Linked DNA regions of Homo sapiens: all the other regions are linked to region 3. The links come from fine-mapping of genetic effects on gene expression. A gene starts in region 3. Each other region holds a variant in brackets. All regions are shown on one strand. Distances are between the middles of the regions.

Evidence for each region. PIP is the estimated chance that this variant, and not a neighbour inherited with it, causes the effect.
Region 1: its variant is fine-mapped to the expression of ZNF559 in subcutaneous fat (TwinsUK, PIP 0.95). The same link has a PIP of 0.9 or more in lymphoblastoid cells.
Region 2: its variant is fine-mapped to the expression of ZNF559 in whole blood (INTERVAL, PIP above 0.99).
Region 4: its variant is fine-mapped to the expression of ZNF559 in fibroblasts (GTEx, PIP 0.97).

What each region holds. Positions count from the first base shown.
Region 1 is chr19:9,577,609-9,580,293 of GRCh38, reverse strand. All of the region lies in intron 1 of ZNF121 (zinc finger protein 121), which reads left to right. Among named protein-coding and RNA genes, the nearest start is that of ZNF121, 5.6 kb to the left of the region's middle. The variant TG/G (reference allele first, on the strand shown) is at 1,313.
Region 2 is chr19:9,603,220-9,605,904 of GRCh38, reverse strand. No RefSeq gene overlaps it. Among named protein-coding and RNA genes, the nearest start is that of ZNF561, 17 kb to the left of the region's middle. The variant G/A (reference allele first, on the strand shown) is at 1,391.
Region 3 is chr19:9,323,087-9,325,771 of GRCh38, reverse strand. ZNF559 (zinc finger protein 559) reads right to left here and starts at 1,593. Exons shown (of 7, transcript NM_032497.3): 1 at 1,544-1,593; 2 at 992-1,077. It overlaps ZNF559-ZNF177 (ZNF559-ZNF177 readthrough), which reads right to left and starts at 1,593. Exons shown (of 13, transcript NM_001384659.1): 1 at 1,544-1,593; 2 at 992-1,077. RefSeq lists a silencer at 1,190-1,329 and an enhancer at 1,500-1,749.
Region 4 is chr19:9,436,929-9,439,613 of GRCh38, reverse strand. All of the region lies in intron 1 of LOC105372269 (a long non-coding RNA gene), which reads right to left. Among named protein-coding and RNA genes, the nearest start is that of ZNF266, 2.7 kb to the right of the region's middle. The variant G/A (reference allele first, on the strand shown) is at 1,502.

The sequences.
Region 1 (2,685 bases), 250 kb before region 3:
TTTGAGACTAGTTTTTCTCTGTCACCCAGGCTGGAGTGCAGTGGCACAAACTGGGCTTACTGCAAACTCTGCCTCCCGAGTTCACGCCATTCTCCTGCCTCAGCCTCCTGAGTAGCTGGGACTACAGGTGCCCGCCAACACGCCCGGCTAATTTTTTGTATTTTTAGTATTGACGAGGTTTCACCGTGTTAGCCAGGATGGTCTCAATCTCCTGACGTCGTGATCCGCCCGTCTCAGCCTCCCAAAGTGCTGGGATAACAGGTGTGAGCCACCCGCGCCTGGCTGACAAGGGAATATCTTTACCCACAGACATGGTGGCCCCAGAATCTCCCACCCTCTATTTGAAAATTCAAAAAAAGTTTTTTGATTCATAATAGACGTACATGTTTTCTGAGTACATGTGATAATTTGATGCATTTATATTATCAAATCAGGGTAAGTAGAATATCTGTCACCTTAAATATTTATCCTTTCTTTATTGCAGGAAAATCAAGTTATTCTCTTAGCTGTTTTGAAATGTACAATAGATGAGTGTTAAATGTAGTCACCCTACTGATCTATTGAACACTAGTTCTTATTTCTTCTAACTGTGTATTTTACCCATGAATCAACCTCTCTTTTTTTTCTAGAGACGGAGTCTCACTGTTGCCCAGGCTGGAATGCAGTGGCATGATCTCGGCTCACTGTAACCTCCACCTCCTGGGTTCAAGTGATTCTCCTGCCTGGGACTACAGGCGCACGCCACAATTCCCAGCTAATTTTTGTATTTTCAGTAGAGATGGAGTTTCGCCATGTTGGCCAGGCTGGTCTCGAACTCCTGACCTCAAGTGATTCACCTGCCTTGGGCTCCTAAAGAGCTGGGATTACAGGCATGAGCCACTGTGACTGACAGGTTTTATGTGTGCATATGTGTGCAGACAGGTCTTCCTGTGTTGTCCAGGCTGGCTCGAACTTCTGGGCTCAAGTGATCCTCCCACCACAGCCTCAAGTTTTGGGATTACAGGCATGAGCCACTACACCTGAGTATTGTTCTCTATAGTGGCTGTACTAATTTACATTCCCATCAACTGCATACAAGGATTATCTTTTCACCACATCCTCATCAGTATTTGTTATTCCCTGTCTATAAAAGCCACCCTATGAGGTGAGATGACATCTCATTGTGGTAATGTGTGATTTGTATTTCTTTGATGTTTAGCCATGTTGAGCATTTTTTCCGTATACCTGTTGGCCATTTGTATGTCGTTTTTTGAGAAACAAGTATTCTGACCTTTGGCCAATTTTTTGATCGGATTTTTTTTTTTTTTTTTTT[TG/G]CTATCAAGTTGAGTTCCTTATATATTTTGATTACTAATCTTTGTCAGGTGGATAGTTTGTAAATATTTTTTTCCCATACTCTAGATTGTCTCTTCAGTTTGTTGATTGTTTTGCTGTGGAGAAGTTTTTAGTTTGATGTAATCTCATATGTTTATTTTTGCTCCTGTTGCCTGTGCTGTTGAGGTCTTACCCAAGAAATCTTTACCCAGACCAATGTCCTGGATTGTTTCCCCAGTTTCTTCCTCTAGTAGCTTTATAGTTTCAGGTGTTAGATGTCTTTAATCTGTTTTGATTTTGTTTATGCTGAGAGATGGCATCTAGTTCATTCTGCATATCGTTATTCAGTTTTCCCAGCAGCACTTATTGAAGACTGCTATTTTCCCATTGTATGCTTTTGGTGCCTTTGTTGAAAATGAACTGTCTATAAATGTGTAGATTTATATTTAGGTTCTCTGTTCTCTTCCATAGATCTATGTGTTTGTTTTTATGTCAGTACCATGCTGATTTGGCTATGGTAGCTTTGTAGAATATTTTGATATCAGGCAGTTTGATGCTTCCAGCTTTTTCTTTCCTTCTTTTTTTTTTTGAGACTAAGTCTCGCTCTGTCTCCCAGGCTGGAGTGCAGTGGTGCGACCTCGGCTCACTGCAACCTCTGTCTCCCAGGTTCAAGGAATTCTCCTGCCTCAGCCTCCCTAGTAGCTGGGACTACAGGCACGCACCACCATGTCTGGCTAATTTTTTGAGGTGGAGTCTCGTTCTGTCACTCAGGCTGGAATGCAGTGGTGTGATCTGGGCTCACTGCAAGTTCCGGCTCACTGCAAGTTCCACCTCTTGGGTTCACACCATTCTCCTGCCTCAGCCTTCTGAGTAGCTGGGACTACAGGCACCCACCACTGGGACTACAGGCACCACGCCAGGCTAATTTTTTTTTTTTTTTGTATTTTTTTTTTTAGTAGAGATGGGATTTCACCATGTTAGCCGGGATGGTCTTGATCTCCTGACCTCGTGGTCTGCCCACCTTGGCCTCCCAGAGTGCTGGGATTACAGGCGTGAGCCACCACGCCCGGCCCACAGCTGGCTAATTTTTGTATTTTTAGTAGAGACGGGGTTTCATCATGTTGGCCAGGCTGGTCTTGAACTCCTGACCTAATGATCCACCTGCCTCGGCCTCCCAAAGTGCTGGGATTACAGGTGTGAGCCACTGCACCTGGCCACTCCAGCTTCGTTTTTTTTGGTCAGTATTTCTTTGGCTGTTTGAGGTCTTTTGTGATTGCATATACATTTTAGGATTTTTTTTCTCTTTTTGTGACGAATTTCACTGGTATTTTGAGAAGGGTTGCCCTGAATTGTAAATTGCTTTGGGTAGTATTG
Region 2 (2,685 bases), 280 kb before region 3:
GACAGAGCAAGATTCCATCTCGAAAAAAAATAGTACAAAATATTTTAAAAAATAATAAAAGTTGTCTATTCTGGCTGATCATGGTGGCTCACACACATATTCCCAGCACTTTGGGAGGCTGGGTCAGGAGGATTGCTTGAGGCCAGGAGTTCAAGATCAGCCTGGGCAACATAGTGAGATTCCATCTCTACAAAAAAATAAGAGTTATCAAGCCGGATGTGGTGGCTCACGCCTGTAATCCCAGCACTTTTGGAGGATAGGCGGGTGGATCCCCTGAGGTCAGGAGTTTGAGACCATCCTGGCCAACATGGTGAAACTCCATCTCTACTAAAAATACAAAAAATTAGCTGGGCGTGGTAGCTGGCGCCTGTGATCCCAGCTACTCCAGAGGCTGAGACAGGAAAATCACTTGAACCCAGGAGGTGGACGTTGCAGTAAGCCAAGGTCGTGCCCCTGCACTTCAGCCTGGGCAACAGAGGAATACTCCATCTCAAACAAAACAAAACAAAACAAAACAAAACAAAACAAAACAAAGGCCTGGCACAGTGGCTCATGCCTGTAATTCCACTTTGGGAGGCCGAGGTGGGCAGATCACGAGGTCAAGAGGTTGAGACCATCCTGGCCAACATAGTGAAACTCTGTCTCTACTAAAAAATACAAAAATTAGCTAGGCCTGTTGGCGTGCACCTGTAATCCCAGCTACTCAGGAGGCTGAGGCTGGAGAATCACTTAAACGTGGAAGGCGGATGTTGCAGTGAGCCGATATCGTGCCACTGCACTCCAGCCTGGGTGACAGAGCGAGACTCCATCTCAAAAAAAAAAAAAAAAAAAAAAAGTACCCAGTCTCTGTTATTTCTTCATAGCAATATGAAAATGGACTAATACGTCAGAAGTTAGAATTTCAAGACCTACCAGGCATTTATTTCAGTGATTCTCAAAAGCCATCTTCAACAGAACCCCTTCCTTTCTCAGATTTCTTCCATTGGCTCCTGAACCTGGTTGGATGGACTGACAGAAGAGTGTTCTTGAAGCCCCCAGAGTGACTCTCCCCACCTGAAAGTAGGGACTCAGCCCTATCCAGAGTTGCAGAGGGCCAGAGAATTGACTGCTGTCTGGCGAGGCTGCCGTCTATCCCCCACTGCATTCTCTAGTCCGTCAGAGCAGAGGGTTTCATCTGTCCTCCACTGAGGCTGCAGTTTTACCCCTGAGAACAGGTGAATGTTCCCCTTTGGGGGAGGATGTGTCTGAAAGGGTCTTGAGTATTGCTGTGGGCAAACTCCACACATCATCCATAATGGTGAATGCACTAATACAAAGATACAAATCAGCCAGAACCAACCTTACATTCCTGGAGTAAATGCCACTGGGTTTACTACTTTCTTACCATGGC[G/A]TTGGAATTTGTTTGCTAATTTCTTTCTTTCCCTCCCTCTCTCTCTCTTTCTTTCATCTTTTTTTGTTTTTTGTTTTTTGTTTTTTTGTTTTTTTGAGACGGAGTTTCACTCTTGTTGCCCAGGCTGCAGTGCAATGGCGTGATCTCGGCTCACCACAACCTCGGCCTCCCAGGTTCAAGCGATTCTCCTGCTTCAGCCTCCTTAGTAGCTGGGATTACAGGCATGTGTCACTACGCCCAGCTAATTTTGTATTTTTAGTAGAGACGGGGTTTCTCCATGTTGGTCAGCCTGGTCTCGAACTTCCGACCTCAGGTGATCTGCCCACCTCGGCCTCTGAAGTGCTGGGATTACAGGCGTGAGCCACCGCACCCGGCTCTTTCTTTCTTTCTTTTTCTTCCTTCCTTCCTTCCTTCCTTTCTTTCTTTCTTTCTTTCTTTCTTTCTTTCTTTCTTTCTTTCTTTTTCTTTCTTTCCTTCCTTCCTTCCTTCTTTCTTTCCTCCTTTCCTTCCTTTCCTTCTTTCCTTTCCTTTCCCTTCCCTTCCCCTTCCTTCCTTCCTTTCTTTCTTTCTTTCTTCCTTTCCTTTCTTTCTCCTTCCTTCCTTCCTTCTTTCTTTCTTTTTCACCCTTCCTTCCCTCCCTCCCTCTCCTTTTCTTTCTTTCTTGCTTTCTTTTCTTTTCTTTCTTTCCTTCTTTCTTTCCCCTTCCTTTCTTCCTTCTCTTTCTTTCTTTCTTTCTTTCTTTCTTTCTTTCTTTCTTTCTTTCTTTCTCTCTCTCTCTCTTTCTTTCTTTCTTTCTCTCTCTCTCTCCCCCTCTCTCCCTCCCTCCCTCCCTCCCTCCCTTCGTTCCTTCCTTTCTTTTCTTCCCCCCTCCCCTCCCCCCCCTCCCTTCCCCTCTCATCTTGCTTTATCACCTAGGCTAGGTGCAGTGTTGCAGACACAGCTCACTGTAGCCCTGACCTCCTGGGCTCAAGCAATCTTCCCACCTCAGCCTCCCAAGTAGCTGGGAGTACAGGGGTGCTCTACCACACCCAGCTAATTTTTAAATTTTTTGTAGAGATAGTCGCTTGCTATGTTGCCCAGGCTGCTCTCAAACTCCTGGGCTCAAGCAATCCTGCCTCTATTATACTTAGTGCATTTTTTTTGTTTGTTTTTTGGTGTTTTTTTGCTTGTTTGTTTTGTTTGTTTGTTTGTTTTTAGATGGAGTCTTGCTCTGTCGCCAGGCTGGAGTACAGTGGCGCGATCTCGGCTCACTGCAACTTCTGCATCCTGGGTTCAAACAATTCTCCTGCCTCAGC
Region 3 (2,685 bases):
CACTGTTGCCCAGGCTGGAATGCAAGGGTGCAATCTTGGCTCACTGCAACCTCTGCCTCCCAGGTTCAAGCGATTCTCCTGCCTCAGGCTCCTGAGTAGCTGGGATTACAGGTGCCCACGCCCGGCTAATTTTTTGTATTTTGAGTAAAGACGGGGTTTCACTATGTTGGCCAGGCTGGTCTCAAACTCCTGACCTCGTGATCCGCCAGCCTCAGCCTCCCAACATGCTGGGATTACAGGCGTGAGCCACCACACCTGGACTAAAGACATTTGTTTTACTCGAGCTACAGATGTTCTCTAGATCAGTATTTGTTTTTTTTTCTTCTTTTTGAAACAGGGTCTCACTCTGTTGCCTAAGCTGGAATGCAGTGACACAATAATGGCTCACAGCAGCCTCGACCTCCCATGCTCAAGTGATCCTCGCATCTCGGCCTCCAAAGTGGATGGGACCACAGACACCACCATGCCCAGCTAATTTTTTATTTTTAGTAGAGACAGAGGCTTGCCCTATTTTTTCCAGGTTGGCATCAAATTCCTGGGCTCAAGCGATCCTCCAGCCTCAGCCTCCCAAAACGCTGGGATTACAGGTGTGAGCCACCTTGCCCCGCCCTCAGTAAGACTTTCAAATGAGTAACTGGTAGAAAACCCACCTGTCAAAAGTTATCTTCGCATTCATTATCAATTCAATCCCTCCTGCTAGTAAATCAGCCCGCACCGTGTTCCTGGGGATGCCCTCGTTTTGAACCTCTGGGGGAATCTACAGGGCGCTAGAGTGAGATCTAGGTGATGGCCTGGAACCACAGTTGAGTAGTCCTGTGTTTTTCCTTGGTGGTAAATTTTACAGTTATGTGCATTCATCCACTCATGCATTCGATGGTATCAGATCCATGTGCTCTCGAACAACCACCTGAAAAGGTTTCTTTCCACCTCGACACAACTTAAACTTCAAGACCCGACACCCACAGCCAGAACAAGTGCATGAAGTGCTCACCGGGACACGACAGAATTGTCAGGTTGCTGAGGCCAGGAGGACACCAAGCGAAGGTCACCGTGAACAGGAAGGCAGAGATGCTGTTCCTTATAGAGAAAAGGCACAACGCTGGATGTGGAGACTTTTTTTTTTTTTTCCATTAGAGATGGTTGGGGGGGGGGGTCTCCCTATGTTGCCCTGCCTGGTCTTGAACTCCTGGCCTCAAGTAATCCTCCTACCCAATCCGCCCAAAGCGCTGGGAATGACAGGCGTGAGCCGCCGCGCCGGGCCCTATGAGGCTTCTGCAGAGGGGAGCAGGGAAAATGGAAAGGCCGTGCCCCCCGCCTCCTCCCGGGCCGAGGCCCCAGCGCAGCCGCCTCGACCCCTGAGGACAGACCTGACTGTGGCTCTCAGAGGAGGGGCCGCGACTTGGGAGAGCCCACAAGATGCTCGAAATGCCCGAAAGTGCACGGGACAGGCTCCATTTCACTGGGCACCTCCCCTTTCCACCCTTCTACTCTCGCGTGGCTGCACCGGGACACCACCGAACGCCGCCCAGAAACAAAAACTTACCTCAGACGCCAACGGGAACGCGCTGTTAAGATGGCGGCCGTTATGCGCATGCGCCCACGCAGACACGCCGCGCACGCGCAAAGGCTAGGACCACCTAGGGGGCGGGGCCTCGGGTTCCCGGGCCCATCAGCTGCTGCGGCTTTTTCCAACCCAGAGCTGAGAGGAAATGCTGTTTACCTCCCCGAAGAGCGCAAGTGTCACCGGTAGGGGGTCTTGACTGCAAGCTGTCCAGGTTACTGGCGTTTTGAACAAAGAATTAGACAAAACGCCCAGCAAAGCAAAGAAAGAATGAAGCAACAAAAGAACAAGAGCTGGGATTTGTTGAAAACGAAAGCATACTCCACAGTGTGGGAACTGGCCAAGCGGCAGCTCAAGGGCTCCGAAACAGAACCTTCATGAGTCCCAATACCTCCTAGAATTTTCCCATTGGCCACTTCATGCTCACCTCCTGTAAATGAAGCGGTAGCCCGCGTTCAGTCTGATTGGTTGCAGAAAGCAGCCAACCAGAGTCTGAAGTTACAAAGGTCACACTCCTGTGCAAACATCTGATTGGTTGCAAAAAGCAACCAATCAAAGGCTAGGGTGAAGTTACGACGTTACAAAGTTACACTTCTATGCAAATGAAGACTCAACCGGCCATCAGTCTGATTTGTTGCAGACAGCCAATTTCCTATCTGCCAGCAGAAAAGGTCAAAGGGAGTAGCCTCTGGTCCTTTTGTTATTTAGGCGAGGAAAGTGAGGGTTTTCCTTTCAATTTAGTTCTAGGAAGTCGGCCTGAAACAGCCTTAAGTTCCCTGCCTCCCGACTCTATTCAGCCTCACAAGGGCTTGATTTTTGGTCATCTCACACTCAGAGACTAGAATGCTCCTATTGGAATTTGTTCAAAAATTAGCACATAGAGGCTGGGCCTGATGGCTCACGCCAGTGATCCCAGCACTTTGGGAGGCTGAGGCAGGCAGACCACTTGAGCTCAGGAGTTCGAGACCAGCCTGGGCAATATGGCAAAACCCTATTCCTATAAAAAAGACAAAAAACACAAAAATTAGGACGTAGTTAAGAGCATAGATAAGATTCATGCGGACTTCCTAAAAGTGAAAACACCAAGATCTGGGGTCGGGGAATCTAAGGCCAATTCGTGATAA
Region 4 (2,685 bases), 110 kb before region 3:
TTAAAATATTTAAAAACCCCACAAAAGTTAGCTGACAATGGATCAAAGACCTAAACATACATGTAAGACCTACAATAATTCCCAGAAGTATAGGCAGAAAAGTTTCATGATACTGGATTTAGTACTGTTTTCTTAGGTGCAGTATCAAAAACATTGCAAACAAAAAATTATCAACATTAAACTTGTACTTCAGAGGACACTCATCAATATTATATAGTTTAGTATTCTAAAATATTCCATCAAGAAAGAGAAGGAAAACCTATTGAGAGAAAATATTTGTAAATCATATATATGATAAGGACCTCTCTTCAGAATATATAAAGAACTCTTGCAACTCAATGGAATTTTTTTTTTTAAGATAGAGAGTTTCGCTCTTGTTGCCCAGGCTGGATTGCAATGGCACCATCTCAGCTCACCGCAAGCTCCGCCTCCTGGGTTCAAGCGATTCTCCTGCCTTGGCCTCCTGAATAGTTGAAATTACAGGCATGTGCCACCATGCCTGGCTACTTTTTTGTATTTTTAGTAGAGACAGGGTTTCTCCATGTTGGTCAGGGTGGTCTTGAACTCCCAACCTGAGGTGATCTGCCTGCCTTGGCCTCCCAAAGTGCTGGGATTACAGGCGTGAGCCACTGCACCCGGACCTTTTTTTTTTTTTTTTTCGAAACAGAGTCTCACTTTATCACCCAGGCTGGAGTGCGGTGGCATAATCTTGGCTGACTGCAACCTCTTCCTCCCGGGTTCAAGCGATTCTCCTGCCTCAGCCTCCCGAGTAGCTGGGATTACAGGTGTGTGCTATCACGCCTGGCTGATTTTTTATCTTTTACGATGTTGGCCAGGCTGGTCTTGAACTCCTGGCCTCAAGTGATCTGTCTGTCTCAGCCTCCCAAATTGCTGGGATTACAAGCCACCGTGCCCAGCCAGAAAACAAATTTTAAAAGGGGCAAAGGAATTGAACAGAAATTTCTCCAAAGAAGCATACAAATGGCTAACAAAGCACATTAAATGATGCTGAACATCACTAGTGTTAGGGAAATACAAGTCAAAATCATGAGGTATCACCTCACACCACTAACACAGTTAACATGAAAAACACTAAAGTGTTAGCAGGGACGTAGAGAAGTTGGAGCCCTCATACATTTCTGGTGGGAATGTAAAACAGTACAGCCCCTTTCAAAAACAGTGTGGCAGTTCTTCAAATTCTTAGATAGTTACTGTATGGCTCAGCAATTCCATTCCCAGATATATACTCTAGAGAAATAAAAACCAGCTGAGCGTGGTGGCTTATGCCTTTGTGGAGGCCGAGGCGGGCAGGTTGCTTGAGCTTAGGAGTTTGAGACCAGCCTGGGCAAAACCCTGTCTCTACAAAAAAATACAAAAATTAGCTGGGTGTGGTGGCTTATGCCTGTGGTCCTAGTTGCTCAGGAGGCTGAGGTGGGAGGATCGCTTGAGCCTAGGAGGTAGAGGCTGCAGTGAGCTGTGATTTCTCAAAAAATAAAAGCCA[G/A]TATGCACAAAAAGATATATGTGAATTTTCATAGCAGCATTAATCACAACACCCCCAAAGTGGAAACAAACCATATGTCCATCAACTGAAGACAAATCATATATGGTATATACATAGAATGGAATATCATTCAGCAATAAAATAGAATGATCTAGGCTATAATACAGATGAACCTTGAAAAACGGGCTAAGTGAAAAAAGTTATTCACAAAAGATTGTATGATTTTTAGGCCGGGCATGGTGGCTCACGCCTATAATCCCAGCACTTTTGGAGGCCGAGGCAGGACTACTTAAGCCCAGGAGTTCGAGATCAGCCTTGCAACATAGTGAGACCCTGTCTATACAAAAATAAAAATAAATTGTATGAGTATATCCATATGAAATGTCTACAAAAGAAAAATCTGTAGTGATAAAGTAGGTTTGTGGTTCCCTGGAGCTTAAAGAGGAGGTAAATGGGTTTTCCCATTCAAAGATTTCTTTTAGTGTGATTAAAATGTTCCAAAATTATGTTTGAACAACACTGCGAATGTACTAAAAAATATTGAATTATATAGCTTTAAGTGGGTGAACTGTGTTGGTTATATGTGAATTGTATCTCAATACAGCTGGTCTAAAAACCAAAAGGGAAAAATCACAATAATAGCCACATCATTGGGAGCGTAAAAATTTAATGTCTATTAAGCATTTAGGGTAGTAAGATTTAAAAAACAGCTACCGCCAGGTGCGGTGGCTCACACCAGCACTTTCAGAGGCTGAGGTGGGCAGATCACCTGAGGTTAGGAGTTTGAGACCACCCTGGCCAACATGGCGAAACCCCATCTCTACTAAAAAAAAAAAAAAAAAAAAATACAAAAATTAGCTGAGCGTGGTGGCGCGTGCCTATAATCCCAGCTACTCAGGAGACTGAGAAAGGAGAATCCCTAGAACTCAGGAGGTGGAGGTTGCAGTGAGCCGAGATCGTACCACTGTATTCCAGCCTGGGTGACAGAGCAAGACTGTCTCAAAAACAAACAAACAAAAAAGCTACCATTATTATTATTATTACCACGGAATATTATTAGTTGATACAAAACCACTGGAATGAAAAGATTATGATCTTGATATTGGCATAAGTAAATGTATTACTGGCATAGAGTCTAGAATCAGATACAGGTATACATAGGAATTTATAGTTTAATAAACATG